Regions from separate parts of the Homo sapiens genome. Here region 2 is linked to region 1. The links come from fine-mapping of genetic effects on gene expression. A gene starts in region 1. The other region holds a variant in brackets. All regions are shown on one strand. Distances are from middle to middle.

Region 1 (14,882 bases):
TCTCCCAGAAGAAAGCACCTTTCTAGGCCTCTCGGACCAAACCAGAAGCAGCTAAAACCTGGCAGCGGTTCAAAGGTGAAGTCATTCAGGCCCCTCTCCACATTCTCGGCAATTCCTCCCCCAACCTTGTGCATGTCTTCCACTAGATGGCAGCAGAGCCCCAGAAAGGAAGGCTCCTCACAAAGAGCTCAGTTCAAGAAGCCAGCCTCAGCCCTGTGGACTTTGTGCGGGCCCTACCAGTGAGGAGGGGGAGGGGCGGGAAGGAGGGGGTGCTTTTCTGAACAGTGCAAAGAGGGGTGTGCAAACCACCGAAGGTGGGCCTTGGAGCCGCTATTCCATGCGGTACAGCTGCAATATGGTCGTCTTATATGTCAAGCTGCAGGGAAAAGGAGTTAGATCAGGTGGGAAAAAGGTTCCCTGGTAGAAAAGCAGAGATAAGACAGGATCCCTGGGGTTGTACAGAGGTCACAGTCCCACTGGAGGTAGGAACCCAGGCCTCGGACTCCTTCAGTGAAAGGCCACATTTTGACTTTGCTCAAAAGTCAATGAACTGATATTTAGTGAACAGCTATTATGTGTTGGTATCTTGAGACTTTGTAGATATAGAGGGCATTACCTTTGAACTCCAAGTTTTTAGGAGACACCACAGCCACATACCTATCATGTGAACACGTTCTCAGACTATTTTTGGAAATTTGGAATTTAATTAAAATATTATCACTGTTAATTAAAATATTCCATGCGTCCCCTACACACATGCATACACAATTGCAAATGAGTCTCACCAACCCAAATCTCCATGAGGATCTTATTCACAGATGTAGCCTCAGTGCTGGGCACGGAGCCTGGGCACATAGTAGGAACACACAAAAAATAAACAGTGGTTTCCTATTAAATGAGCTATCGCCCATAAGTGGGTAAATTCTATTGGTGGGGTCATTCTGGATCCCAAGAATTTGCTCTGGCAGTGGTGATAGAAGGCATATTGTTGGCCAGGGGAAAGCGGGAATCGCAGAAAGGAAGGGAGGAAGGGGCCGGTCATTACCAGCAGCTCCTGAGGCTTGATGGAGTTGTCGGTGTAAATGCACAGCTTCTCCGCGGTCAGCGGGCTGGTCTCTTTGAGTTTGGAGGCCAGGAACATGCAGACAGCACCCAGGAGTTGCAGATGGGACTTCGGAGTCGGGACCCCAGCCAAGAAACGGTCCAGGTAATTCATGGCCAGAGGGAAGACCTCTTCTTCGCACTTCTGTTCCTCACAGACCTATAATGGGAGTGGGAAAGGGTTGGGGGGCGGGGGTGGAGAGCATAGCATCAGCAAAAGAGAAAAAGAATAAAAAAGCGTAATCTATCGAAACAAAAAAAATTAATTTTTTTTTGTGGGAGGGGGAGGGGACCAGAATGCGTGATAAGAATAAAGAACAAAGATGAGGAAACTGGAGTGAATCAGAATAGCCCATCAGTGCTTTGGTATTCCCAGGGATCCTATAAAAGGGGGTGAACTACAGCTCCAAAACGGGGAGTCGGAGAAGTGCGCAGCAGCCGCGGCAGCTCCGCGACGCTCCCTTTGGCTACTCCTTCGCGCACTCTAACTCACTCACTCTTTTTTGGATTTCGTCATCTTTTCAAAAAATCAATAAAAATATTCTGGAGGCTCCGGGGGTCCACTTCTTGGTCTCATCCGGATCCCCAGATCCTCCTCTATCATTCCCGACAATTGGAAAAAATGTCTGGGGGGGTCCCTGCGGCCCAGGGGCCGCTTTTGGGGGGGCGGGTGAGGAGAGGTGGGGAAGAGAGGGGGAGGGAGGAGAGGAGGAAGAGCGCCGCAGCCTCGGCAGCTGGAGTCGGAGCAGGGGGGGATGGTTTCAAAAAATAATTAAAAATCGAGGAAATATCCTAGAAAAGCCCTTTTGGCGTGAAAACCCCAAAGAAGAGCCAGGCTTCCCGAAACAGAGGTTTCGGGTGCCAGAAAGGTCTGTATTCCGACCCCTGGGGCTTTGGATCCCGGGAGGAAACTTGAAGGGGTGAGCGCCGCGGCGGGAGTGTCCGGCTGCGGCCCACAAGGACAGAAACTAGGGAACGCGGTGACGAGCGAGGGGAAAGACGGGAGCAGAGAGCCCTGGAAAGAGGCACGGGGGGCTCCCACCTCTCCTTCAGGGGTGACCCGGTATCCCCCCTACACACACCCCCTCCCCCCCTTCCTACCCCACCCAAATCTCCGCACCGAGGAAGCTGGAAAACCAAACTGTAAGTAATCTTCGTGAGGTGGGGGGTGGGGGAGAGGGCACGATTAGAAGTGGGGTGGCCGGGATAATGGGGTGCGAGGGTAAGCGGGCGACGTTTCCCAGCCTTTCCAAAGGGAGTTTGCAAAGCAACATGGCGAAACCACGGCAGGTCCAGAGCTGTGCATACGTGGGCACACGGCTCGCTGGGCAAAGACTTGGAGTGAGGGGCAAGAAGCGGTTCTTTTGGGTTCCCCTGAAACACGCGTTTCTTCAATGGGACTTCCGGGGCTCCCGAATTCCCCGTTTCTCTCCTTCTCCCTCCTCCCTCCACCTCCCCGGTGAAGTGCCAGCGCGGAGTCGCGACCACAGGCGGGGACCTGAGGCCAAGACGAATTTGCTCTGGCCTTTTGGGGGGGGTTGCCTTTCTACTCGGGGTCCCGATTTCAGGCCCCGACTCTCTTCCTGGCCGCAGCGCAAGCAGCCGCGGCGGCTTCGCAAAAGACAGGTCGCGAGGGGGGTGGGAAGAAGAGGCAGCCACATGCAGGAACACGCGCGCGGGATGCTCCCCTACCCCCGCCCAGGACAGCCTCGCTTCTCCCAGATTTTCCTCCCCCCTCTGCCTCCCCAGTTTATCTGGAGAGGAACAGAAATAAAGCCACGCGTCTCGCCAGAAGGCGCGCGGTAAACTCCCGCACAGGAGCCGGGAGGCCGGCGCGGGGATTGCCCTCTCCCAGGTTTAGGGCTCCGGCCGGGGACCCGAGCATCCGGAGGGGTCCTGGCTCCTGGCGAGCGCCACCCCCCGACCTACCTCCAGCATCCAGGTGGCCACCATTCTGCGCATGTAGGGTTGGATGTCCTTCTGCACGCACTTGAAGTAGGAGCACTGCGGAAGGTAGCGCTCCTCGATGGTGAGCAGGTTCTGCAGGACGCGGTCGTCTCGGAGCAGGTTGCGGTCCCGCACGGCCCTGCGGACCGGGTCCACCTCGTGGCACAGCAGCTCCATGGCCAGCCCGGCGGCCCCTCTCCCTCCTGCTTTCCCCGGCCTGGAAAAAGGTTTTTCTGTTTTTGTTTTTTGGAAGGGGAGGGGAGAGCGTTCCCCTGACCTCCTTCCTTTGGCTAAATAGGGGGTTTTCGGGGGAGAGGTGAGGGCAGAGAGAGAAGGTGGAGCAGAAGGGAGGCGAGGATTGGGTGGTGGGCGAGCAGAGCCTCGGGGCTGCCTCACTCGCACCGGTCCTCCCCTTAAAACTGGTCTCGCTCTCCCCTGCTCGCTCTTCTCCGCTCTGAAGCGGTGACGCAAGCTGGCTGGGCAGTTAGCTCTCCTCCCTCTCCCCGCGCTCCCCGCTCTGGTTCCTCCTCCCCTTTCCTCCCCTCCCGGTCCTCCCCTCCTCCTTTCAATCTCTCCCTCCCTCCCTCCTTTTCCCCTCTCGTTATTAAGGAGAACAGCAGCTGGCCCGACCCAACTTCAAACGCGGTCCCCCGCCACCCCCCACCCCTCTCCCTCCATCCAGCCCTGCATGCCAGGGGCCCCGGACAGGGCAACCCACAAAAAACTACCGACTCCTATTTCTGCCCTCTAATTTCACTCATTCTGTAGGTGTAGCACGCCAAAATACGACCCTCCAACTTTGGCTTCTTCAAAACGGATCCTAATCCTCCTGCCCTTGTATTTAAGATCCAGGAATGTAGGGTAGATTATCTGAAGATGGGGTGACCTCAGACAATTTAGAAATAGGTCCCTTAAGTGAAAAATAAGGGAGGGGGTGATTTTAGAAAATAGCAACCTCGCATACCCAGAGATAAAGGTCATGTCCCTGAAGTCTGTGTTCCTGATAACTTCGAAGCTGTTTCGAAAGCCCCGATTAAAGGGACCAGAACAACGTCCCTTCTGCCCCCCCCTGCAGAGTGTGTGCAGAGGAAGAAGAGGGAGGGAGAGGTGGGTATTAGGAAGGAAGGGGGGTGCTTCTCTGGAGGGATAGAATGTGATCCTCGAGCAGAAACCATCGTGTTTCTGGGGGCTCTTCGGGCGCCGTGGGGCGACGCGGTGCAGCGTCTAGGGCCGCCGCAGGCCGGGGGCAGGGCTCCCAGCGGTTCCCCCGCGGCCAGCGGCCACGCAGGAAAAACCCGCTTCCTCGCCCCTGCATCTGCTGACAAGCCGCCCGAGGTGTCTGCGCTGAGCGTGGCCACACCGATGCAGCTTTCTAGGAAATGGCCCGGGAGGGGGAGGGGGCGAGTGAGGGATTAGGTCCGGCTCCCCCTCGCTCCCCCTGCGCAAACACCACCACCCCTTCCTTTCCCCGGAGGCATGAGGCCTCCACGCTCGGTCCTTCGCCCGCATCCTCGCCGACCCCTCCGGTTTCGCGCCTCACTCGCCAGGCTTTCTCCCTGGGAGCCGACTGCGGTGAAGTCGCCGCCAGCACGGTCGGCCCTGACACGTGCTCTAACGCATGCTTGAGTCAAGGCTGTCTTTACAGGAGATACGATCTGGTGGCGTTTCTTCACCTCCTTCCTCCCGTCACCCCCCACCCCCACCGCGCCCTTTGGTGTATTTCACTCCAGGAGGAAGGGGAGAGACCAGCGCCCTGATGTGCTGGCCAAGCTGGCACGTGCAGCGGGCATGGCGTGGCTCGAGCTCTCTGGGCACACCGAGGCCGACTGAGTGCCTCCCTCACCGAGAGAGGGGGCCCGGGCAGGGGCGCGGAGAGCCAGCAAGGCGGGGTGGGGCGCGGGCTGGGTGAGCCGTACACTAGGTTCCCTGCAAGGCGGAGGAGGGGAGCGAATAAACTAGAGGTGCAAGCGATTAACTCAGGCCCCGGAGCCAGCCTCTTTAAACGAGGGTGGGGCGGAAGGGGTGGTGGGGGGGAAAGGAGGGGATATCGCTTTAAAAGGGTGAGGAAGAGTTTGGGGCGCCGTCTCCCCTCCCTCTATTTGCATAGCCAATAGCTCTGGGGCTCCTGCTACTGCGCGCTGATTGTTACCGGGCAGATTACTTTTTTTTTTTTTTTTTTTTTTTTTTTTTAGTAGGACGCGTTCCCCACTACATCAAAAGGAAGCCAAGGGAGGGCGGAGGGAGAGCGGGCGCTGGGGCGGGCGAAAGCTGGGGAGAGGCCCGGCCGCCTCCGACCTTATCAATAGCAGCGGGAATGAGTATCCCATCTCCTATATGTAAAGAAAGGGGAGGGAAGGGGCGGGCGAGGAAAATGTCTAATTGCTGTGGAAGCCATTAGCTTTCAGGAAGAAAAAAAGCTCGCTGAAAAACCCAAGTTGCAAACTCAAAATGAAACAGTCCAGCGCCGCGGATGACACCCGGGCCGAATACCGTGTACACCCGCACACAGTCGGCCCCGAACAATCACCTATTGGTTTTAGTCACGTTGGGCTTCCCGACTTAAGCTTTTGAGTCACCCCGGATAAGGACATTCACTTACATTTTAAGACCCCCATAAGGGAATTACTCCAATTTCACCTAAGCCACCTTTGAGCGGATCAAAGAAAGTTGCAGCGGGGAGAGGCGAGAGAAGGAGGGAGGGCGGGAGGTATTTTTAAAGTATAAATCTAACCCGACAGGCAAGGGACAGAGGCCGCCGGGGCTCCCAGCCTCTGGACATCACTTGATATAGCTCTGCGAGCAAGGTCTCTTCCACCCCGACTCCGCACACCCCCCCTTCTCCGGGGAAAGGCATCCAGAGCTCTGGGTCTCCCGAAGTGGGGGCAGCGGGGGCGAGGAAGAAGCGGGTGGTCGTCCCGGGGCCCAGCCCACCCCGAGGAGAATGCCTGGGTGGCGAGTCCTCACGTCTCGGGAGTGAGCCGAGGGCCCTCTCGCCCCTTCCCTCTCCCCCTCCCCCTACTCCGTCTTGCTTTACAGAGAAATTCCAGCGGGGAGGGGGGCAGCGAATGGGAGGGGCAGAGAGGGTCGCGGCCGGATGCCCCCCCTTCCCGGCGCCCTCTGCATTCATGGAGACCCGCAAGTTCGGGCGCTTCCCGCGTGGCAGGCTCGCCTCTTGAAGTTCCCCTGTCCACTTCCCCTTCCGATTACTGACTGTTCCCGAGCGTGAAGCTCGCCATCGAATCCAATCCCCGGTGGTTTTGCAGACTCTCACACGTGGGGTGGGGCGTGAGAGGGTGCGGAGGTTGGCAGGAATGTCTCTAGGAGGCTTGGACTGGAAACTGAGTTTTCCCTTTTGGTCGCCACTCCAGCCATGTGTTAAAACCCTAATGTCTTGTTAAAATGCACTCCACCTAGCACGCGGGAAAACGCATGTTGCCTTCTAGGCAAAAGTGCACACTTTCTTTCAGTGTAGACTTCGGTTTCAAGAAAAAGCGCAAGAGCCTGTGCTCTGGCTTTGAAGTCCAAACTGATCACCGTGGCGCGGGGGTGGGGGGCGGCGGGAGGGGGTAGATTGTTGGTTCTTCCTTATCTCCTTTTCACCCTTCACGGAAAAAAAAATACATATATATATATCCCATGTAGGACTGGTGATAAACTTTAGCGAACGCCAGTTTTATTGGACTTTTATTCTTTTTCCGGCCGGCTCCCCACCCTCTACGCTAGCGTTTTGGAGTTTCGGTTGGAAAGTGTACAAAGCCTGGAGGTGGAGGGTGCAGCAGGGTGTTGGGTGTTTATAGGCACTTTTCTGCAGGAGCCTGCAGCACTAAGCACACATACTCCCAAGCTTACCTGGAGGATGCCTCCCAGCCAGGTGATTCCGCGGTCGGCTCAAGGCCCGGGAGCAGCGCGAGTTCGAGTCCCGCCTTCTCCGCGCAGGGGCGCCTAGGCCAGGTGGGGAGCGGGTAGTGACTGAGTTCAGGCTCAGAAATGGGAGCCACTGCCTTCCCCTCGGCTCCCCCAAAGAGTGGAGCTGTGTTTGTGTTTCTCCGTGGAGGGATGGACGGTCAATCAAAACCGAAAACCCGACTGGCAAAATGCGAGGGGACACATAAATCCGAGGGGACACATAGGAGGCACATCAAGAGGAAGGAGGGAGTGCAGGCAAAGTAGAAAAATGCGGACAAGGAGAAGAGGAAAACGTCGGGAAGCGGAGAGCACGGGGGAGCAGGGTGGGTGGGGACGGGCAGTGCGATTGCAGGTGTTCACTCGCTTCCGGGACCCTCTGGTCGCAGCCGCGCCCGCCGGGGCGCTGGGCCGCTGCGTTCTGGAGGGGGGCAGAGTCCGCCAGGCCTGTGCATCCGCACTCCCTTCGGCGAATTTCGGCTTGGACGGGGCTGGATTACTGAGGCGGCAGATGCGACAGGCGTGAGTTAAGAAGGCGAGCGCCTGCCGTCTGTCACCCACCTAGCATCTCACTCCCCTCCCTTCGGAAAAAAAAAAAATTAAAAGACCCGAACTTCCCCCTCTTCCTGTCTGATTCAGCTTAGGACACGCCTCACGCGGCCGAAAATAGCTCTGGAAATACATTTGCTTTACAAAAGTGAATTTTCCAATAAGCTTTGGGGCGGGGGGCGTCCGGCGGTCGGCGTCGGGGGGTCCTGCCTCCCGGGAGGAGAAGGAACCGGCCGCCTCCGCCCTTCTCCCCCTCCAGGCGCCCCCGGGAGGGGGCCGCTGGGCGGCGGAATCGCGCCTCCGCTCGGGGAGCCACCACGCGGCTTTTTCGCGGAATTTTGACGTCATCCACACGTGGGGGAAGGGGCTGGGAGAGCAAGAGGAAGCGGCGGGGGAGGGGGCCGCGGCTGGGAGAGCGCGGCGGCGGCGCGGCGGGTCTGGCACCCTCGCGGTGGGCGCAGCGCCGGGCAGGGTCCGGGCCCTGGGCAGCGCGGCAGAGGAGGCCGTGCCGCGGACCCCGGAGCCAGCGCCGCGACCCGCCTCCCTCCCCGCCCCCCGCCCCTCGCCATCTTCCACCCCCAAGCAGTTTATTTTTTCTACTTTGAAATCGGGGCCGCTCTTTGCTCCGGAAAAAGCTCATTTCTTTAGGTTATGGTCCTGTTCCGCTGGGTACTGAGATCAGACTGAAATCCCGATCACTGGTCGCGACCCCCGCCACTTGACTTTCTATCCTCTCTCCACTTGAGAGTCGTGAATGTCTTTTTCGGTTCCTCGGGGAGTGAGTTCTGCATTGACTTTTACACCCGGAGTTTTTCATGCGCGACATATTCCTCCCTGCTCCCCCGCCCCATTCACCATCTCAGTATCAGCTGGGTTGGTTAATACGATGGCTATTACATGTAAGATAACCCGTGCATGCATTGTGAGCGATATCGGATGAATTTTGCTGCATTTGGAACAAATGGATCTAGAAATACCCTTTCAAAACAGTTTTACAAATCGATGTGAAAACATGTAGGGCGACTCCCTTCCCACTCGCTGGATACCCTCGTGGCATCCGTGCTCATGCAGAATCTTCTAAACTGCAAGGGCTGAAAACTGCAGCTGCAGAGTGAGCCCACGCACCTTCATTTCCCCTAAATTTGGGCAAAGTCCTTTTAATCTTTCAATCTGGGGGGTTATAGCTGAAATGTGTCATTATTTTCTAAACCCACGGTGACAGTTCTGAGTTTATGCTGAAATTTACAAGGAGCTTCAGTGGGGATGTTTGGGAGAGAAATACTGTGAACTGACTTTTACCTCTTTGAGGTAAAGGGGCTGTTGTAGGAATCAGATGCAGAAAGCTAGGGGTGTCTGAAAATGTGGATTTGAAGTGGAATTATTTGTTTCAAAAGTAGGAGAGAAGCTTTCTGTCTGAATCAGATATTAAGTGTGGAAATGTTTCTTTTTTAAGGTGACACAGTTTGGTTATGAACAGTACTTTTTCCTTCTTTTTAACACATTCCCTCTATTTTTAACTTATTATTTATTTCTTTTTCGTTTTATGATTGCTGGTCTGACCCAAGAGACTTGGTTTTGTTTCTTCTGGGGGAAAAAATGAGCTATAATTAATAAAAATGTCAGTAATTACTGTCATGATTAGCCTGAGTGAACTGTATTTAAGAGTGCTTGCTTTTTGGTGCCTGATTTGATGGACACTTGGTTTGTCTGCATAAAGGTAGAAAAAATAGGATAAATTATTAAAAGAAAAGGAAGGAGCCAAAGGAAGTGTTTAAAAAACTAAAAAAGCAAAATGTCCTTTAAATTTAGCTTCACCTTCATTTCAGACAGTTAAGTAGTGGAGGTTAAGTTAAGCACTTTAGAGATGTAAATTCTTTGTAAAATGTCAAGACTATCCTCACCAGAATTTTTTTTTGAACAATAGTCAATTTTATTTGTTTTCTAAGCACTTTAATTTTGTCCAAATTCAAACATTCATTCCCCTTAAAAATGTCCACTTTCCCAATGTGATTAAATATTCTTTCGATTTCATGGTTTTATTCAGCTGTGTATCAGTTGCAGCCAATTGAAGCAATATAAAGTATTTCTAATAAATATTTCATATTTTAATTTTCAATCTTTAAACTTAAGAATTACTAGCATCTATTAGTACAGTTTATAACATAATTCCATAACATGCTAAATTCATATTTACCAAACTTAAAAAAACAAATTAATAAAAAAAACAGAGAAATAGTTCTCTTCTTGAGGCTTTTTTTGGTTTGTTTTCCTTGTGGCAAATTTCAGGAGGCAGATTTAAAATTTTTCTAAAATCATTTTCTTGTTGTTCTTTTGTTGGCATTAAAAGGAATGAGTTCTGAAATGTGAAACAGGTTGACTGTAAAGTTTTATAATCTTCAAAATGTGTACCTCTGGAGAGATATGTTCTATTTTAGAATTGACCTGAAAATAGGTAGTTCGTGTAAGTGTGCTAGACAATCCAAGCCAGTTGGATGTAGATGCCTATAAGGAATGCATTTCCTCTTTACTCAGCCTTAAATAAGGGCATCTGCTCTTACAAGAACTTGAAACAAAGTCTGCACCTATGCATGATGCAAACAACTCAAAAAGCACAAATCCAGAGCAAAGGGGGTTTATGTGGAAGGTGCAATTAGAGCAAAAAAAATCCAAATTTATTTCTGCTCTTAGCTATCTCAAATCATACTTTCGTTGTGGTCTCATCAGTTGTAAACCAAATAATTATTTCTTTGTGATGTATAAAGGTGAGTTCCTTCAAGCTTCATTGGTAATAATAGTAATTATGATGATGATAATAATAAAAATTATCTTCCTTATTCTTTCGGTGAGTGTGTGTGGGGGGATGTTCACTTTATTTCTTTAAACATTGTCATCAAATTGTAAAAAAAAAAAGTATGGATGCCAAAGTTAGGTTATTGTTCTGAGAAATAACACAAAAAACATTTAATTTTGTGCTTTTGAAAATAAAAAGTCACCAACATTTAATATACCTATTGCCTAGGGGAAGCAAAAAAAAAAAGACAGGATTAAAAAGGAAAAGAAAATTTCTTTGCATAATTTCCAAAGCCTTTCCTTCATCGTGCCCACATATGTTTCCATTTTTGAGAGCAGCCAGTCAGTCCATCAGGCAAATGCAAACCCAGGACCCAAACTCTTTCCTGGTGTCAAGGAAGATATTCTGAAGCAAATGGTTTGGGTTAGTTTACATAAGGTTTCAGATGAAATGTCTCACATCTGGCATCCCATGGCCACCAATTATTTCAGGATCGTGAACCATTATTTTAAAAAAATATTTTGAGAGAGGCGAGCCTAGATCATGGATTAGGGCTGTGCAGGCCGTTTTGTGTGGGGGTCTCACTGAAATCATTTAAACTCAGGAAATTTAGTTGTATCAAGTAGCAGCACATCATCCCCATTGTGTAGTTCCAGTAAACTAGTGACTTGCAACCTTTTCTACCCCCCTACTTTCTTCTGAATATATATTCTTCTAATGTTTCTCTTTTTAAATAAAATGGCATATTTAATTTAAAATTTCCCTAACAAAATATTGAATAAGGCTCAAATTTACTTGCTTTTGTACAAGAAAACTTCATATAATCACTCTTTGTAGTGTAATTACCAGCAATTTTATGTCATCTAGCAAATGATTTAAGTAAGTCGGTAATGGAACGCCAGTGAAATTTGCTACACTTGGGATGAAAACCATACTTACCTCAAGAAATCAAAGTCTGACCTTCCATTCAGACACTTAAGACTTTACCAAGGCAGACTGTATGTTTCATTTAGTGGAAACCTTTCCCATTCAGGAAAGCATCATTCTCAACCATAGATTAGATGCAGTCTTGCTTGGAGCCAGGGGAATGGACTGCAGGACCTCATGCCATTTTGGCCAGTCACAGAATACGCCTTCTGTGTCTGGAAGTTTGCGACTGAAACTCTATATAGTATTCATTAAGGTTATTCATGCTGAGAGATCACATATGTGTTAAACTGATAACATCACAGGTCTGTGCAGAGATACATCAGAACATGTCAGGGGTATGATTCCAATCTGTAAGGTAGAATTTAAGTGGTTTTAATGGAAGAGTTAAATATGCTGAGATTTTTGTGCTTTGGAGAATGCCTTTGGGTTTTGCAATTTATCCATTCATTTATTTGATTAAAATTGAGTCCTTACCACATACCAAACACTATGCTAGGCATTGGGGATATCGTGGACATAGACAATGTTTTGGAAGGTAGACAGGAAGGAGAGTTGAATCACACAGTCCGCGTCCCTGGGAAGCACATTGTCTAGTGATGAAGCATAGGAAATAATACCCCGGATAAGTACATGTTCTTAAAAAATAATAAAATCATAGAACAAAAGGCATAGGAAGATATGCTATTTTATCCACCTTCCACAACATACCTTAAACCAGGGAGGTGGAAATTTATCTTTTCTTTAAAACTCAGTCTAGTCAAGTAACTGTTACTTGGATTGCATAGTGATTTTAAGAATTATGTTCCTAAATTATGTTCTTAATTTGTTTATATTCTATGGGAACGAGTTGGTTGGATGTCTGATTCACATATCACATATATGGGACTCAGTCCCTTTAAAGTAGCCAAAGATAGAGCCGTTTCCTTGGTCCATCATACTGAGAGCGTTCCTTTCTTTGAGTAGCTGTATTTCCCACAGCATCTGTTTCTCGTCTGAACGAGCCCTCCCTGTATCTGACAGGGCATTGATTAGTGTTTCACTCCTTTGGCTAGGGAATTTGAGGTCACAATAGCTCATTTTCTTGTCCTGGGACACCCAGACATTAAGAGCAGAATATAGACCTCTGATTATTAGCTTGACTGTCTCCTAGAATTGATGCAGAAAATCCTGTCCTTTTTATTAGCATCATGTTGGTGAAACAGCTCTAGCCTAGAAGTCAGAATACAGCCATCCCTCAGTGTCTGTGGGGATATTGGTTCAAAGACTCCCACCCCACCACCAAAATCCAGGATGTAAAAATCCGATATAAAATGGTGTAATATTTGCATATAGCCTATACACTTCTCCCATACACTTTAAATTATCGCTAGATTACTTACAGTACCTAATATAAAGTAAATGCTTTGGAAGCGGTTATGCTGTGTTTTTATTTGTATTACTTCTCATTGTTGCATTTGTTATTTTTTTACTGTGTTTTTTTCTCTGAATATTTTTGATCCGTGGTTGGGTGTATCTGTGGATACGGAACCCATGCATAGAGAGGGCCGACTGTACCCTCTTTCTTGCTTCTACTCTGCACTAACCAGCACTGTGACCTTGGGGATAGATTATGTGTTTCCAAGATTGAGTTTCCTCAGCTACAAAATTAACTGGCTGTAGTAAATGATCGTTAAGTTCCCTTTCAGCTCAAAATCTATAAAATTCCAGTGACTTTATTATCATCATCAAAATCGGAATCAATTTATTATATACTTTATGTTTTAAACAAGGATTCTTAAATTGTGGGTTTAGGTATGCTCTCACTTCCCAGGTATCTGGGAGAATTAATCTATCAAGAGTTGGAACTTTTAACATTTAGTTCCTCATATAGATGGGCACTTGGTACATGTCGGCTGAGGAAAAATGCTGTTTTCCTTGTCCTAAGGAACAGAACTGCCTAAGTTAATAGAATAGCGGTCTTCAAAAATATAGAGAGCATAAGAATATATGGACTATAACACTGCTCCAGGGTGCTTAAGGAAATCTTAGCAGGTTAGTTTAACCTAAAGCTTAAACTAACCTAAAGCTTATTCCTACAATTCAAACAGAGCCCCCATCAGAGCGCATATAGACACGGTTTGGAATGGACCCTAACTTGCAGATCCTTCTTTAGGTGACAGTCCATGGACCTGGTGAGCCTCTTTAAACAAAGCTCGTTCTGAGCTACCCAGAACCATGGAGCATCAGCTTGCTCCTTTAGTGAAAAGGGAATTAAGCAAATTTTGCGGAGTTGCAATCTTTGGACAAGACATCCCCTTTTGTTTCCTGGCAAGTCTTGATAACCAGAAACAAGCAAGGAAAGATTTCTGCTGTATCCCACTTTTCTCCCTCACTTTTCATTGCTTTGAACATGGGAGAAACATCATCTATTGAGATTACATGCACTCCAGTAAAGTCCACTTACATGCAAATTATTTGCTTTACAGAATGATATGTTTGTAGACACGTTTCCTTTTTAAGGTGTGGCTCCTACAAAAGAGAAATTCATAGTAATTAATGAATAATTATATCTGAGATGGTTTTTAAACAATGTGCTAGATAATTTGTAAAATGTATGGTATATGGCATGGAGAGAGTGCTAGATAATTTGTAAAATGTATGGTATATGGCATGGAGAGAGTGCTGGATTTGGGGTTAGGAGAGATGTATTCTAGTCCTCATTCTGCCACAAGCTGTGTAACTTGGGGCAAGACTTAAACAAGATCACAGCAACTTATGATTATAAGGAAACTTCATAGGTCTCCGAGGTCATACTCCCATCTATCATGGCAGTACCTATTCAGTTAAATGATTTACTAAAGGTCACACAGCTAGTTAGGGGCCCAAACATCCTACCTCCTGGCAATTTTTACCCTTAAGTGCTGTCTCCAGCCACTGAAACGAGGCAGAACAAGCCATCTCCCTCATTTATACTGACAGCTGCTCAGATATTTGAAAGCGCCATCTCTTCATCTTCTGTCCCTTAGACTGAATTACCCTTTCTCTTTAGCTGTTCAGCTGGACATTAGACCACCAGCAGGCTGCCCTCCTCTGGATCCTGACTAGTTCACTGGTATCCATCTTAAAGTGTTGTGTCCTTCTTAATGTGTGGCTAATGAGAGAGAGCAATTTGGAGCAACTTCAGAAACCTCGGACCATCAAGGCAGTTACAGAAGAATACAATAGGGCGTGACTGCCATCTTTGCATTCTCCACCCCAGGCTCCTGGAACAAGCCTCCTCCAGTACCACTGGGGATACTGGTCTAGAGAGGAAAGATAAAATAGTTATCTCTTCTTCTGGAAGCTGATCTCATTAATGAAACCCCAGGTTGCACTCCATTTTCTCATCTGTAAATCAGGTGAACTAAATGAGGGATCATTTTACCTCATCTGTATTCTGTGGCCCCAAAGAATAAAACTAGTGTCACTGATTAAACATTAGAAGACAAATTTCTGGGCCCAGCGTGGGGGCTCACACCTGCAATCCCAGCACTTTGGGAGGCCGAGGGGAACAAATCACTTGAGGTCAGGAGTTTGAGACTAGCCTGGCCAACATGGTGAAACCCCGTCTCTACTAAAAAAACAAAAATTAGTTGGGTGTGGCGGCGCAGCCTGTAGTCCCAGCTGCGTGGGAGGCTGAGGC
Region 2 (15,391 bases), 38 kb before region 1:
ATGGTAACACCCTCCACTTGACTGCTCATGAAACCCTTGATTCTTTACCTATCCTAATATTCCCTGTCAAATTCATCATAGATTTCTGTAGGCTCAATAATGCAGTGAGTGCTGGATTTTACTCGTTTTCTTGCTTTTTTTTTTTTTTTTTTTTTTTTTTTTTAAGACAGAGTCTTGCTCCGTCACCCAGGCTGGAGTGCAGTGGCGTGATCTCAGCTCACTGAAACCTCCACCTCCCAGGTTCAAGCGATTCTTCTGCCCCAGGCTCCTGAGTAGCTGGGATTACAGGTACCCGCCACCACGCCCAGCTAATTTTTCTATATTTTTAGTAGAAATGGGGTTTCACCATGTTGGCCAGGCTGGTCTCAAACGCCTGACCTCAGGTGATCTGCCTGCGTCTGCCTCCCAAATCTTGTTTTCAAATAAAGATTAATTACTGTCTTCACCGAAGATGAGCCAAGTGTAAAATGCCTGATCTATTTGGAATGTAGGGTAGGGGAGGAGATTGTGGGTTGGAGCCAGTTCCCCAGGCATTTAAATATTTTCAGCAATGCATTAAGAGTGAAATTAATTACATTGTGACCAAAAGCTGGTTAGCTGGAGTCTGTGAAATTTATATTATTCTTGTTTATCTTTTTTTTATTGAAAGGGTTTTTTTTTTTCCTTAGGGGCTATTCTTGGTAGTAAGACTAAGATAGTTGCAGACTTAAATCTCCAGGACTTCAGAGATTTTCAAGGGTATACATTTTTGAAATTTACAGAGACTTGCTTTGTGGACTAGTCCACAGGCATTTCACAGAAATGTTTCGTGTGTCCTTGTGAAGAATGTGGATTCACTCATTATTGGATACAGAGTTCTATATATACGTCTGAAGCAAGCTTATTTATTGTGTCGTACATATCTTCAATAATAAATAAATGATAAAAGCTATCTATCCAAAACCTTTAAAAAAAGTTTATGGGGTCTATCACCAAATTATGTCCTGAATCCACCACTTCTGGAGTCTCACTGTGTCCCAGGCTGAGCCTTCATCACCTCTCGTCTGGATTACTGTGATAGCCTGTTGGCATAGCTCTGCTGCCTCTACTCTGGTACTCAGCCATTGAAGAGATGTCCCTATTGTGTCACTCCCTTGCTGGAGAATTCTCTATTGAATTCTCATTGCAGTTAGAATGAAGTCCCAACTCCTGCAAGGCCTATGTGGCATGGCCCCTCTTGGCCCTCCAGTTACAATTCTCTCTTCGCTGCCCCTCCTCATCCAGCTCCAGCCGTCAGGGCTTCTCTCTGTTCGTAGACCACGTCATGCTCATTCCTACCTCCGGATCTTTGCATTCTCTGTTCCTTCTGCTCACAGAGCTCTTTCCCAAGATATTTGCATGGCTGCCTCCTTCTCAGCCTTCAGGTATCAACTCAGAAGTCCCACTCTCAAGAGGTCTTCCCTCAAGCAAAGTAGGCTGCCCAGTCACTATCCATCATCCGATTTTATTCTGAAATTATATCATTTATGAACATTTTTGTAGGTTCATTGCTTGTCTTTCTTCAGCAGGATATATATTCCTTGACCGTGGGGACTGGCTTGTTCCCTTCTGTGTCTTCAGCACCTCAAGTAGTACTAGATATATTGTAGGAGCCCAAACAATTCATTAGAATCTATGGTTTTTTTTCTTTTTTTTTTTTTGGTTTGTTTCTTTTTTTTTTTTTTTTTTTTTTTTGAGACGGAGTCTTCTCTGTCACCCAGGCTGGGGTGCAGTGGCGCCATCTCAGCTTACTGCAACCTCCGCCTCCAGGGTTCAAGCAACTCTCCTGCCTCAGCTCCCACATAGCTGGGATTACAGGCATGTGCCACCACGCCCAGCTGATTTTTGTATTTTTAGTAGAGATCGGGTTTCACCATGTTGGCCAGGCTGGTCTCAAACTCCTGACCTAAGGTGATCCTCCTGCCTGGGCCTCCCAAAATGCTGGGATTACAGATGTGAGCCACCGTATCCAGCCCTAGAAATCATGTTCTTACAGAATATTTAATGGTATGATAACATTCCCCTGATAGGAGATTACATGAAAAAAGAGTAGAAAGCCATTCGTTTATGAGCCTGATTTTTAAGAAAAAATACATACATATTTTTAAAAGACAAGAAAAAATGTGTAATTTATGTCAAGAGTTTCTCTAGTTGGTAGTTATCATGTTAAAAATGCTTGTTCTGCTCTATTACTAAAGAATTTATTTCCTGAGACACATGCATACAAATAAGCAAGGTGTCTTTCACAAAGAAAATTATCCAGAGGGTGGGTGATGGAGAACATATAAACTGTTCTATGTGGCTACTCACACATACTAAAGCAAGGCAACTTACTATTTTTACTATGTAATAGAATACAGCTGAGAATTTTTTTTTTAAAAAAAACCTTAGTTGAGGGGTAGTATGTTCCTGGTATTTGTTCTGTTTATTTTTAATTAGGTCACTTTATGATTCTAAGATAAAGCTCTTTAAGACTTACCAGAATAGAGGCAGGGTGCAGTGGCTCATGCCTGTAATCCCGGCACACTTTGGGAGGCCAAGGCGGGCAGATCACTTGAGGTCAGGAGTTTAAGACCAACCTGGCCAACATGGCGAACCCCTGTCTCTACTAAAAATACAAAATTAGCTGTGCATGATAGTCCCAGCTACTTCGGAGGCCGAGGCAGGAGAATTGTTTGAACCTGGAAGGTGGAGGTTACAGTGAGCCAAGATCGTGCCACTGCACTCCAGACTGGGTGACAGAGCAAGACTCTGTCTAAAAATATACGTATATTATTAAGACTTACTAGAATAGAGACAAGAGGATTTTAAGTTTCAGAATAAAAATGGACAGACAAAACTGACATCAGATAGTACAGACTGAGAGTGTTTGGGACCAACTGAGAACTGTGGTTTTTGTGATTACCCAAGTTATTTATAACACCACTACTTTGCTTTTTTCTTCTATTGCTTTGAAGTTGGAAATTGTAGTGGTTTATGCAGACTTAATAAAAGAGAAAGTCTTGGGCTTTTACTGGCAGGGATTTTCTTGCACCACCCACTGTCATAATTGATTACATGCTGTACCCTGATGGAAGAACAGAATTTCTAGGCCAACAGAAAATCACAAATACATGGTAAACCATCTGCTTTGTCCAGCGACTGAGAAATAATAATGTGACCAATGACCCAAGTGCGAAGGGACTCCCAGTCCCCATCAGCTTGATGTCTGAAGGTGGAGGGAGACTTGTTTTGGCAGCTGCTCTGCCAACATCTGACATCTGTCACCAATAGCTCCCCATTATTGCTGGTTCCAAAAAAATTATATCTGCCAGTCAAACAGCTTTCCTACTGATGGACAGTCGAAAGATGCCTTCTCAGCCTGCCGTGCTTCTGGGGAACTCCCCTTTATTTGAATACATGCATCCTCTAATCCCTTTTCATGCCTTGCCTGTTAGCCTGTTACTTAGTGGGGAAGAGAACGCTCCCCAAGCCCAAGTTCATTGCTGTCTGGAAGAAGGGCGGCAGCACCAAGGGGATATTATGAGAGTTGTAAATGCTTTTGTTTCACTGCTGTGCTCTTGATAGTAGTCTCATCAGGATCCACAGAAAACCCATATCCACCTCCACCCCTGACTTTTTGGGAAAATAACATTGCATCTACAATGCCTTCAAAAGCAATGAACACGGTCCTTGGTGTGTTTGCATATGTTCAGACTAGCTGATTCTTGTTAAAGCTTTCTATGTATTAGGCACTTTACATAGACTACCTCATTTAATCCTTCTAATAATCCAGAGAGATTTTATAAAAGAATAGCAGAGACTCAGAGCTTGTAAAGCTAAGTGGCAGCCCTGGGATTCAAAGTCAGATCATCTTATTACCTAAGCCTTTTTCCACCACAGCATCCTGACTCTGTCACAATGATTGTATGTAATACAGAAATGTATGATACAGTCCATAATATTCCAGGCAAGTAGCAAGCACTGGGGGGGACATTGGCTAGAAAGGCCAATCCTCTTGTTCTTGCCAGAGCCCTGACAGAATGCTAAGGAAAAGAGAAGACCGCTAGGCCCTAAAATCCTAGGTGTCCTGGCCCTAATACCTAGGCAGTGCCATATGGAAGCAAATCTTCCATAGTCCCTTCATGATGAGCTTACAGTGACATATGAAAAACATAAGTGAGTGACTGCTTTTAAAACCTGTGGTGCTTCAAGATTTTCTGAGGGTATTCACCAAGATGTCCAGAGGCTCACAGAGCTGAGCAATGAATGGAAGCCTGCAGAGGCCAGCAGTTGTCCTTCATTGTTCATTTGTACATTGCTGGGTGACCCTCAGTGTGGCATTCACCCTTGCAGGGCCTCAGGCCATTGCATCCATGGTAAAATAATATTTTTGGAAATATTAATCAGCATTTTTTCCTACAGTATTTTTCCTCTACGTTTTTGGGCCCTTCCTCCTGTGTCCCTTTTTTCGGGGCAAGGAAGGTGGCCACGAAAAACCAAGAAAAAGAATATCTCTTCCTATAGGATAACAAAAGGAATCTTTAAATAGCAAAGGCTTGGGAGGCTGATGATACAAGCAAGGCTTCCCTGCCTCTGGACTGAGATTCTCTGGGCTTGGTGGGGGAAGGAGGGAGCGTTGGGGGAGAAATAATAATAACACAGATATTCGTGGGTCCCTGAAGAATAGGGACAAACTAGATATGTGATTTTGTTTGTTTGTTTGTTTGTTTGTTTTTGTTTTTTTTTTTTAGATGGAATCTTGCTGTGTCACCCGGGCTGGAGGGCAGTGGCGCAATCTCGGCTGAATGCAACCTCCGCCTCCTGGGTTCGGGTGATTCTCCTGCTTCAGCCTCCCGAGTAGCTGGGACTACAGGCACATGCCACCACGCCCAGCTAATTTTTTGTATTTTTAGTAGAGATGGGGTTTCACCATGTTAGCCAGGATGGTCTTGTTCTCCTGACCTCATGATCCGCCCACCTCGGCCTCCCAGAGTGCTGGGATTACAGGTGTGAGCCACCGCGCCTGGCTGTGATTCTTGTTTTAATTGACATAGGTTTGGGGATTTGGGAGGAAAGCAGAACCCATGGCTCCTTCCCAGGAGTTTATGAGCAACGCATTTATAACCTGAATGGAATGAGCATGAAGAACAGCCAAGGGGCAAGGCAAAGACGCTGGAAAGAAAAGGCTACTTCCTTGGTGTACATTCACTGACAAACTCCTCCTTAGATGACAAGGCCCTTTACTTTCTTCATTGACTTTGTCTTCATTAAAAAACTATCCCCTGATGATTTCACTAAGTGATGTCATCATCCAACCCCCCCCACCCCCTGCAACCTTCCTGCCCACACTGGGCTAAAAGTCTCACTCTTTCAGCTCAATGCTCAGTAAGCAAAATATGGATCAATAAAGTAGCCCAGTGTAGCAGAAGATGCATGATATTTGAATTCAGACACATCTGGGATCCAGTCCTAGCCTAACTCTTTGTGATAAGCCAAGTGAGCCGTGTGACCCTCCATTCACTTAGCTACAAAACAAGGTACCAAATTCACCAGAGTTATAAAAGGATTATAGGAGAGGCTTGTGGAAAGCTCTTTCAAAACTACAAAACCCCATTTCACAGATGAAAAAACTAAGTCACTGAGTTTACTGTGAGTTGCTGGGTGGCTAAGTAATGAGCCCAAGGTTACAAAGCGAGTGGGTGGCCGGGGGGGCATTCCAGAGCAGAGCATAGAGCACTTGTATTCTGGGCCAACCACCAAGTAGCAGTTGTCTTTTTATCTGTCTCTGTCTTTAGCCTTTGAGATCAAGGAGAGCAGAGATCTCATCCCTGGAAAAGCAAGTACTGAGACACATTTGTTGAATGAGGGGTCCCATACGGAGCACCAGGCACGTACCCAGCCCTCATTTGTTGAATAAACGAGCAGTGCCCAGGAGCCCTGTGTGGGAAGGGGATGATGAAGAGTAGCGATTTTCAGTGAATGGGTTGACCGAAACATAGCCACAGAGATTTGCACTTTTTCAACAAATATAGAAATCTCACAGGTTTGTCTTCTCATGGAATCTCCATGGTGCCAGGAGCACTAAAAATGACTCTCCAGACAAACAAAAGCAGGAAAAGCTGTCTGGACACAGTGGCTCACACCTGTAACCCAGCACTTTGGGAGGCTGAGGTGGGAAGGATCTTTTGAGGCCCAAAGTTTGAGAGCAGCCAGGGCAACATAGTGAGACACTGTTTCTATAACACATTTTTTAAAACAATCTAGATGTAGTGGTGCATGCCTGTTGTCCCAGCTACTTGGGAGGCTGAGGTGGGAGGATCACTTGAGCCTGGGAAGTTGAGGCTGCAGTGAGTTGTGATCACGCCACTGCCCTCTAGCCTCAGAGACAAAGGAAGACCCTATCTCCAGAAACAAAAGAAAAGAAAACCAAAAAACAAAAAGCAGATCTTTACCACCCCACCTTATTTGGGCCTACCTGCAGACCTGGGCGTGGGGCTGAATGTTGGGATCTCAAAGGAATTTCAAAAATCTGGCCCAGCCCCGGGGTAATCTGATAACTAAAAACTCATAAAGACATAAAGAGATCTTAATGCTTACTGAGGCAGTACGGTCTTTCTTCGTCTGAGAAGGAGAGGTTATGGTCCACAAACTGAAAGAAGTATTCCAGGTCTGTTTGTGGTGGAGAGGGTTGGAGGAGGATGACTCCACTTGGGACTTACTGGGCCCTCCTTCCTGGCCAGGGAGGTAAAACAGACACAGGTTAGGCTGCAGAGCTGTAAGCCCTAAGCCGACTGGCAGGCGCCGTAAAAGAGAGCAGCGGGTTCAGTCGGTTGTGGGGTGGGCAGAGGGTAGAGAAAGGGGCCAGTCACACTCAGCTGCAGCCCTCGCGGCCTCGCGGGCCTGTGGTTGCCAGGACTTAAATCTCCCAAGAGTCGTTACAATCCTGACTTTTATGTGAAAGCTCTCATCTTGTATTGGCAAGTAAATCCAAGACAGTTTCAATCACTGTGGGAGTCAAGCTAATTATGTCTGCAGGCTGGATTTGGTCTGTAAGCTGCCAGTGTGCCATCTCTGGATTAGTCACTGAAGAGTCAGGGAAGGTGATGAACCAGCACCAGCCACCCCAGATGGAGTCACGATGTGGCGGTAGTGAGAGAAGCAGGTGAGGGAACTGCGCCAGGTGTGGACGGGAAAGGCCTGACGTTCCTTCCCCAGGCTGCCCTGGGGAGATGGCGGAGGCGGGGGTGCTGCTCCAGTGCTGTCTGCTGGAGGGAGGTGTTCCCTTCCGTGCAGGGCAGAGGCAACCTACACCCGGCTGGCTCTGGGTTTCCTTGTGAGTGATCCTGTCCGTGGCATTAGTACCACCTAGTGGACTTCGCAGGAAGAACTGCATGTTGAAACCATGCGGACAGTCATTTACCAGAGCGGCGGCGGTGAGCGCAGCAGAAGGGCCAGGGTCCTCCGAGCGAATCAGCATGAAAGAAACCATAATAATGAGTAAACTCAAAGCTTGAAGCATAAACTCAAAGCTTCAGGGGGACAATGAGACAGAGGCAGGGGCGCTGGTCTTGCTTTCTCAGGCCGCCCAGTTCTGTTTGACTGAGCCTGTGGTCCGAGCGGATGGAATCCGCCCCTCCAGCACGGGGAGGCCCCCAGAGCCCAAAGACAAGGAAAGCCACCAGTCATATTGAAGCGTCCAGCCTTCTTTCTTTAAGCCTCATGAGAAATTAGGTGGGTGGTAATCCCAAATCAATGTTTGTGGCTGTGCTTATCCTGTTTCACAAGCCTAACATCTGTGTTTATATTGTTTAAAATCTATTAAATTGTGTGGAATATTTTCCCTTCATTTAAAAAAAAATTACTTCCCATCCCTTTTATTTTTGGAAAAGGTCACACTCTGTTTCCGTTTCCAAACTATGCTGACCCACATGATCTTCCTAACAAAAGTGTTTTCCTAAAACTCACTTGCTTGAGGAAACCTGTTCCTCTGCAAGGGCCCCCTCCCACACCTTAGCATCGATTTCCCCCCAGACTCATTTGCATTTGCTGTTGTTTCTCTCTGCTATTTCATAGGCCTGTGTGTCCTGTTTTTTTCTGTGCTTTTCCTTAAAGGCTCAGTACAGGCCCCACATAACACATCGGCTGTGAGTACTAGGCTTACCTTGATACTCTGAATCTCCCTACTCTGTCCACAGCATTTTTGCTGTTGCTGTAATTGCCAGGAGAGCAGGGAAGTAATCTGGTGTAATATTCAGCTTTTGAGTACTTGCTTCGTGTCAGTATTTTGACAGTATTACTGCTAAGCCAACTGGGAAGGTGAATTTTGGGGATACCTCTGCATACTAAATAAAAGCTCCAAATCTTAGAAAGTCATTAGAGATACAAAAGCACTCCCTTGAACACGCACAAAAGATCGGGGATTTCCAGGTCTTCATTGCATTTTTAATGGCCACTTTCAGGAAAGGCACTTCCAAGTTTGAGATTTTCCAGTTATAAGATGATCTGGGTCTGAAAGAGCGTAGATGGGACAGTCAGATTTCTCACTGCTCGGCTGTGTGCTTCATCTGCTCTTCCCGCCCTTAAAACATCCATTGTTCAGAATGGGGGAAGCCCAGCAGTGTTGCTGGGTGGCATTTGAGAGAGGGAGTGGAGTTGTCATGCTATAAACAGATATAGCATTGATCCTACAGAGCAAAAAGATAGGGAAAGGGAGGGAGAGGAACCCAGTTGGACATTATGTCATGCCAAAGAGAATTCCAAGGATGGTTAAGAATGGCAACCAGAGGCCCTTGAAACTCCCAGGAGGCCAGCAGACTTCACTAGGCAGAAACCCAAGAAAAAAGTTACCCCCATTTGTCGCTAAGAATGGCGGATGTCAAGGGGAATGGGAACAAAGGGGAATTTCTAGGGTCCTTGTAAGCTTAAAAGTCCTATTAAGTGAAGTTACTTGAGATCAGCCTGGAATATCTTAATCTGGACTTCCCCAACGGCCAGTTTTAAATCTTGTTTACAACTCAGGTCAGAATTAAAATGGAAAACAGCCTTCGATGACTTCCAGACAAGGAACTTTGGAAAAAATTAATTTTACAGTAACATCAAAATGTCTGTTATAGCTTGTGCAACAAAGCTATACAAAAAATCTGTACAAAAAATAAAAAAATTAACTGGGCGTGGTGGTGGGCGCCTGTAATCCCAGCTACTTGGGAGGCTGAGGCAGGAGGATTGCTTGAGCCCAGGAGTGTGAGGCTGCAGCAAGCTGGGATTGTGCCACTGCACTCCAACCTGGGGGACACAGCAAGACCCTGTTTCTAAACAAAACACACAAAAAAGTGTTCATTAGGCCCTTGTCTTCTGCACACCCATCACTCTCGGGAAAGAAGCTGGTCTGAGCTAAGGTCCAAGAGCAGCTGGGCCTAGGGCCTGGCAATTCATTTCAGCAGTACGGAGACTGTCACATCCCATTCCCAGGCTCTGCTTCTCCAGACTCCAGCAAAGGTAGTTGTGGCCTGTGTCTCAGAAGAGGGGTGCAGGAAGGATCAGAAATCAGGTGGGAGCCACGAAGAACAGCAGGCAGGAGCCAGGAAAGCTGCAGGGGCAGGGTTCCCAGAGACTCCCTAGACTCTGGAGATGGCACCGCAGGCTTCTGGTACCTCTCATGCCAGGAGATGCTTCCTCACAGCCCAGAATGAGTAGCTGGCAACAATCAGGGACGATCCTCTGAGGACCAGTCATAGTGTCTGTGATGTACCCACCTTCTGAAGGTGGACTGAGGCTTCTAGCTTATAAGCTGGCTGCATAGGCACCCCTCGTCCCCTAGCAATGTCAACAATGACTTGTACCGCCATAACACAGAGGCACATGTAGATTCCATTCCAGGTTAGAATGTGTCTTTTATGCCACTGCCAAATGTTGCAGCGGCATGAAACAGTTCTGACATGAGACAAGTGTATTCCATTCTGAGGACTGCTGGTTTATAAATAAGTCAAAAACGGCCAGATAATTTAGGTCAAGGTGAGTTTATTGTCCAAATAGCATAACCTAATTGCATTCAAAACCATTTTCAAATCCATCTTTAAACTAGTCAGAAAACAGGTTATTATTTTTTTAAATCACTTAACACTGAACAGATAAGACCTCTTAAAAGGCAGCTGACTATATCATGTCACCATCATAGCCAATACAACATTTTTGCCATACTTCCTAAAAACCTTTTCGCATACACTGATCATGCTACTTATCAGCACTTTCTAACATCCTGACCAAACAGACACCCACACCTCTTATAGAGTACACTGTGAGAGAATAACATGGACTTGATATGGCATCACACTTGTTTTAAAGCAAAAAAAAAAAGAAAAAGAAAAGAAAAAAAAA[AG/G]TCCAAGACAAGAAACTACATAACTGAGAGAGAGGAGAGAGAGAGAGATCTGAGGTACATGATATAAGGGTGATGAACATAATGGAAAAAATCCAATGGCCCGATGATTTGCTGGGGATGTAAGAGTTGGCCAGCAGTTAAGAACTAAACCAATTAAAAATAAAAATAGAAACTTTGTTTTTCAAGGACAGGCACCTGTCAAAAGACATTGGATACTGTAATGGCTACAGTCAGTAAGGCACTTTATTTCCCCAAAGTAGGCTGCAGGCGAAGGGATGCAGGCTGCAGCTACAGCATGCACGTACACATTTGCTGATGGCTTCTCAAAACCTGAGCCGAGAATAGGGTCTGATAGCCCAGCCAAGTTTAAAAGCAGACACACACGAATGTAGTATCGTTGTGCCTGAAATGACCATTCTGGGTTGTTTAGAATCCAGAATCATCAAAAGCCATGTGGTATGAGGAAGTAATAAATATCCTCTTGAATCTTCTTACCCTATTTTGCACAAATGGATGGCTGCATGAACAGCTCTTGTAAATTGCTCTGAGTCCACACCAATAGAAACCTGCACTCATTCTATAGCTACAGAGGGTTTGTTGGCTTAAGGGGACTTTATCATCTCAGCATTAATTTCCCTTTTAAAGCTATTCTCAAGGTTGGACTGTCTCAGAGATAAACAAAGAGGAATCCTTTTGGCTTAGAAGCCAACTGGCTTACTCAGACTTCCTCCCCTTCCTACCTCCAATTCCCACACTACCAATATTATCTTCTTGAACTAGAAAATCAATTATTTACATGACATAAGGTGCAAGTCTATTTCTTCTCCCAGCCCTGTCCCCTGTGGCCCATGGAGAGAAAATTCCCCTGCCCTCTTGGAGAGAGTCATCTGATCCTGCCTTATGTTCTTAACCTTTCAGTCCCAGAGCTCCCAGGGCACAGTCTGGAGAGGCCCTAGAGGTGCTAGACTGCAGGGAAGCGCAGCTCCGTCTGAAGAGTTGCCAATCCTGCTAGCAATGGGATGCAGCGTGATGCTGTCAGGGTTGTCTTCTCCTCTGGCTTTGTCACTTAAGCCATGTGTGCCCCTGACCTGGCTGATAAGAGGCAGAACAGAGCCTCCAGTACAGAGCACATAGACCAAGGATGACCCAGTAGTAAGGCATGCTGTGCTCTCCAGTGGGGTCCTGAGGCAGTTCAAAATAAGGCCTCCTGGAAGAACAGCCCCTTCTTCAAGGAGCTCGCCTCTCAGCACGCATGGGGTGTTCTGCGGAGGGAACTGCCCTTGGCTTTCTCCTGCAGGCTTCTTGGCTGTTATGGACCCGCATGGAGTTTAATTATGCTTAGCATATATTTTTGGCATACTAGGATTTCTTCCCCCTAGGATTTGGCCAAAAGAGGGGAAGGATCAAAATTTGGCAGGCTGGGGGAACAACTCGGCCCCCACTGATGGAGAAAAAAACAAACAGATGGAAGTAAAGACGAGATAGAAACACAACAAGGTAGAAAAAGACCAGGATAATTTGGAACCCCTTTAGTGGGAGGTAAGAAAAAGAAGAGAAAGAACAACAACAACAAAAAGAGCAAGTTCAAATCCAAGGGGGAGAGCTCCTCTGGAACAAAACTCCTACCAAAGAGACTAAGAGCTAAGGAGAGGGCAAAATCCAGGATTCCTTCTTGTGTTTAAGCAGGAGCAGGCAGAAAAGCCTAACAACCCCCGACTTTCCCATCGGCAGCCCCACACCCATCATCACACAAGGCCCCAAGGATGGGAAAGAGAAAAGCTAGAAGGACCCAGGGGCCTCGGGACTACAGGAAGAGTGGAAAGTTACAGACTGTAAATAGAGTCGGGTAGGCTTGTGCCCTTCCTTATTTGTCCGGTTCTTTCATTTGCTGCTTCTGTTTAAGCTCAAGGGTCAGTCACCATGAAATGAATTTGCACCTCGGTTTCTCTTTAGGCTCCAAGATTCCCAAGAACTCCAGGGTTCCCGCTTTCCCCATTCCGTGGGACTCCTTGGGGCCCAGGAGAGTGTGCTGAGCAAAGCTGGCTCTTGAGAAAACTCTGGCTAGCTTACTTGCTGGCTGCTCCACTTCCCTCTCCAAAACTTCAGAATTCACCACCCATTGTCCCACCAGAAATCCCCTAGAATTTTAGGGTCATGCTAACTCACAAAGTCCTGAACCCTTCTAAACACACTTCCCAAGAGACTGACTCATCTGGAATTTCACCTCTGTAGAGAAGCAGCCTCTTCACCTCCCTTCAACTATCATCCCATACTTATCTGACCTATTTTTCTTATCCTGCCAATTCAGTGTGATTGAAAACCCGACCGTTTAGTACCGCTCAGCAGAGGGCCTGGGCTTGCATAGTGCTTGCCTGCGCAGTTTGAGACAGAGGAGGGAGAAGGAAGCACCATAAACGCTGCTTGCTGCAGGTTCATCTACTCGCAGATTCAGACCTAGGAAACCTGCAGAGATGATCCTAAACACAAGGTGTCCATGCCAGGGGAGGGGAAAGACGGAGGGGAAAAACTTCAAGATGAAAGGGCCCTTTGCAGATGAAGCCCCGCTTTTGAAAAAGCTCCAAGATGAGGATCTCCAAACAGCCTGGTGGAATTCTTTTTAGTCTGTTTCCTGACACCTGGTACCTAAGTGCAAATTACGACATCTGAGCCTACCGCATAAATGTTTGTACTGAACGTCTGCCTTGAAGGGGAGGGAGGATCCCTTGGTTCAATGTATTTTTTCCATCATGATGAGGATACCAGGGTCTAACTGGGAGCCCGATGGCCTCCATGACCAAAAAGGTCCCTGGGAGTGAGACCGCCCTGCCTTCCACCTGAGAGGGAGTCAGCCCTGCTCACACTGCTTCTGTATTCCTCATGCGAATGGGCTCCCAAGCAGAAACTGTACGGTTGTGAGGTATTATGAAAACAAAAGCGTGAATCATTGCCTTTTGTAGTTATTGATTTTGTCCAGTAAACCTGAGGTAAAGAATACTCCGTCTTTGAAGAATGTGATCAGAGGAAAAAAAAAAAACCAAAAAACCAAAAAAGAAAAAAAAAAACAACCATGAATATGCTACCAGAAGAAAACAAACTACGGAAGGGCTTTTCCAGTACGAAGAACTCATATCTCAACCATCTACTTCAGGACTTGGAATTTAAGCAGTAAAATAATATATTATAAAAATGTTTATAAAATAGCAGCACACTCTGTGAAACATTACAGCTAGGTACTGTCAACGTGAATAAGGATGGATGACTTTAGCTTCTTAGCAGCGCAAAAAAAAAAAAAAACCAAACTGAACAAAACAAAATTAAAAAAATGAGAGACCCTTAGATTGTTTTCCGTCTTCAACCCTCATACTATGAAACAAGGCAGAATCTGTGTATAAAATAATTCTTCAAATAGCCCTGTTCTGATTTTTCTTTTTTACTTAAAAAGGCAAATATTTTAACAAATAGCTTCATTACCTGTCAATTACAATTGTGCAAAAAAAAAAAAAAAAGTTGTTGCTCCAACCTCTTTGCTAACTGAATGCCTCTAAGAAGTGGAGAGGAAGAAAAATTCAAGTACGCTGAATACAACTTTGCAATAAAATTAACAACAACAATAAAAAAAAAAAAACGGAAAAGGGAACAAAATGCCACACCCTGATGTTCAGCCATCTATCTTTGCACCAGCAATAACTTTTCTTTCCATGTCCAAAGGAGAAGTATAGAGATGGGAATTAAGATCCTTCTGTGCCATCAGAATGGTAACAGATTTTAGTTTACAGGCTTGTCTGAGGAATGTTGTGATGGGAATGTCAGCAGGAAGGGGTGTCTCTTGAGTCCTGGTAGGAACACCAGAACTGTGTACCAAAGAACGCCAGATACCAGAAGCGAAGAGTAACCCAGACTGGGGGCAGGAAGGGAGGGGGCAAAAGAGAAGAGGGGAGGAGTATTCAGCATGACTTGCATAAACCATCCCATCTATCGCTCGGGAACAATTTTTCAAAGTGCTTTTCGAATGGAATGGTTTATAACAATGCTAAACTGTGAACCAGACATGCCAATCAGCACCAAAAATTAGTTTTTTTCTAAGAAGAAATGCCAAGGCCACATTACCCTTTTAAATACAATAACAGAAAAGACTCCATTCTGGATCCCACCCTTGGTCTCCATCTGCCTCCGTTTCATGTGAGTTTTGGTTATGGCCCATAGCTACATTTCCCCATTAGATAGCAATATGGTGGTGTCTGCAATGAACTGCATTTGGAAGAAGAAGCAGGATGTCACAGAACATGAAACCCAGGAGCCAATCACCTGTGTCCAACTGGCAAAATAAAACATCTTTTTTTAGGTAGCAGCTACTGTAGACAGCAAGAGGACATTAATGTAGAGATCCAACTACACTCCTGACTTAGTAACAGGTGGCTGAGAGCAAAGGTGCTTCTCCATCCCAAATGGTTCAATCATGTTGAGAGATTGTTTTGTACTCCTTCCCCATCATGTCCCTCCTTATTTCAATTCCTTCTTGAGTTCATTGCTTTGCAATCTAATCATGCCATAAATGGCGTACACAGTTCCTTGAAATTATACTACAAGGGGGTGTATGTGCTAGCTCATAACATGAAAAAAAAAAGTCTCCTCTAATTTGTTCCCATATTGCAGGCATACATATTCTCTAACTACTCTGCAGGTTTTCCTGTAAGCATTTTACTATTACTTTTACATAATCAAACAATAACTGTTCGCATATACAAGGGATTCCCTTATGCTGTACTTCAAATAGGCACCAAATGCTTTTTATTATTCCGTTTTCGTAGGACCTTTTTCTCTCACTTCTAAAAGATCTTTAAATATGATCTAGGTGGGGGCAGAATTTTTTTTTTAAGTTTCACCCTAAAACACAAAGAACAAAAACAACCAGAAAGAAGAAGAGACCAGATTATGGACGCGTCTCTCTCTTTCGGCCCAACTGGCATCCTCACAGGTCGATATCCCGCACGTCTGTAGGGGTGCTGGCTTGGTCCA

The links. PIP is the estimated chance that this variant, and not a neighbour inherited with it, causes the effect.
Region 2: its variant is fine-mapped to the expression of CCND2 in whole blood (TOPMed, PIP 0.92).

The regions. Positions count from the first base shown.
Region 1 is chr12:4,262,384-4,277,265 of GRCh38, reverse strand. It overlaps CCND2 (cyclin D2), which reads right to left and starts at 3,504. Exons shown (of 5, transcript NM_001759.4): 1 at 3,031-3,504; 2 at 1,046-1,261. The coding sequence starts at 3,225. It overlaps CCND2-AS1 (CCND2 antisense RNA 1), which reads left to right and starts at 1,082. Exons shown (of 2, transcript NR_125790.1): 1 at 1,082-1,207. RefSeq lists silencers at 3,574-3,663, 4,194-4,313, 5,094-5,213, 5,198-5,389, 6,014-6,083 and 2 more.
Region 2 is chr12:4,299,963-4,315,353 of GRCh38, reverse strand. CCND2 (cyclin D2) reads right to left here. Exons shown (of 5, transcript NM_001759.4): 5 at 10,001-15,391. The coding sequence ends at 15,345. Among named protein-coding and RNA genes, the nearest start is that of TIGAR, 14 kb to the left of the region's middle. The variant AG/G (reference allele first, on the strand shown) is at 10,375.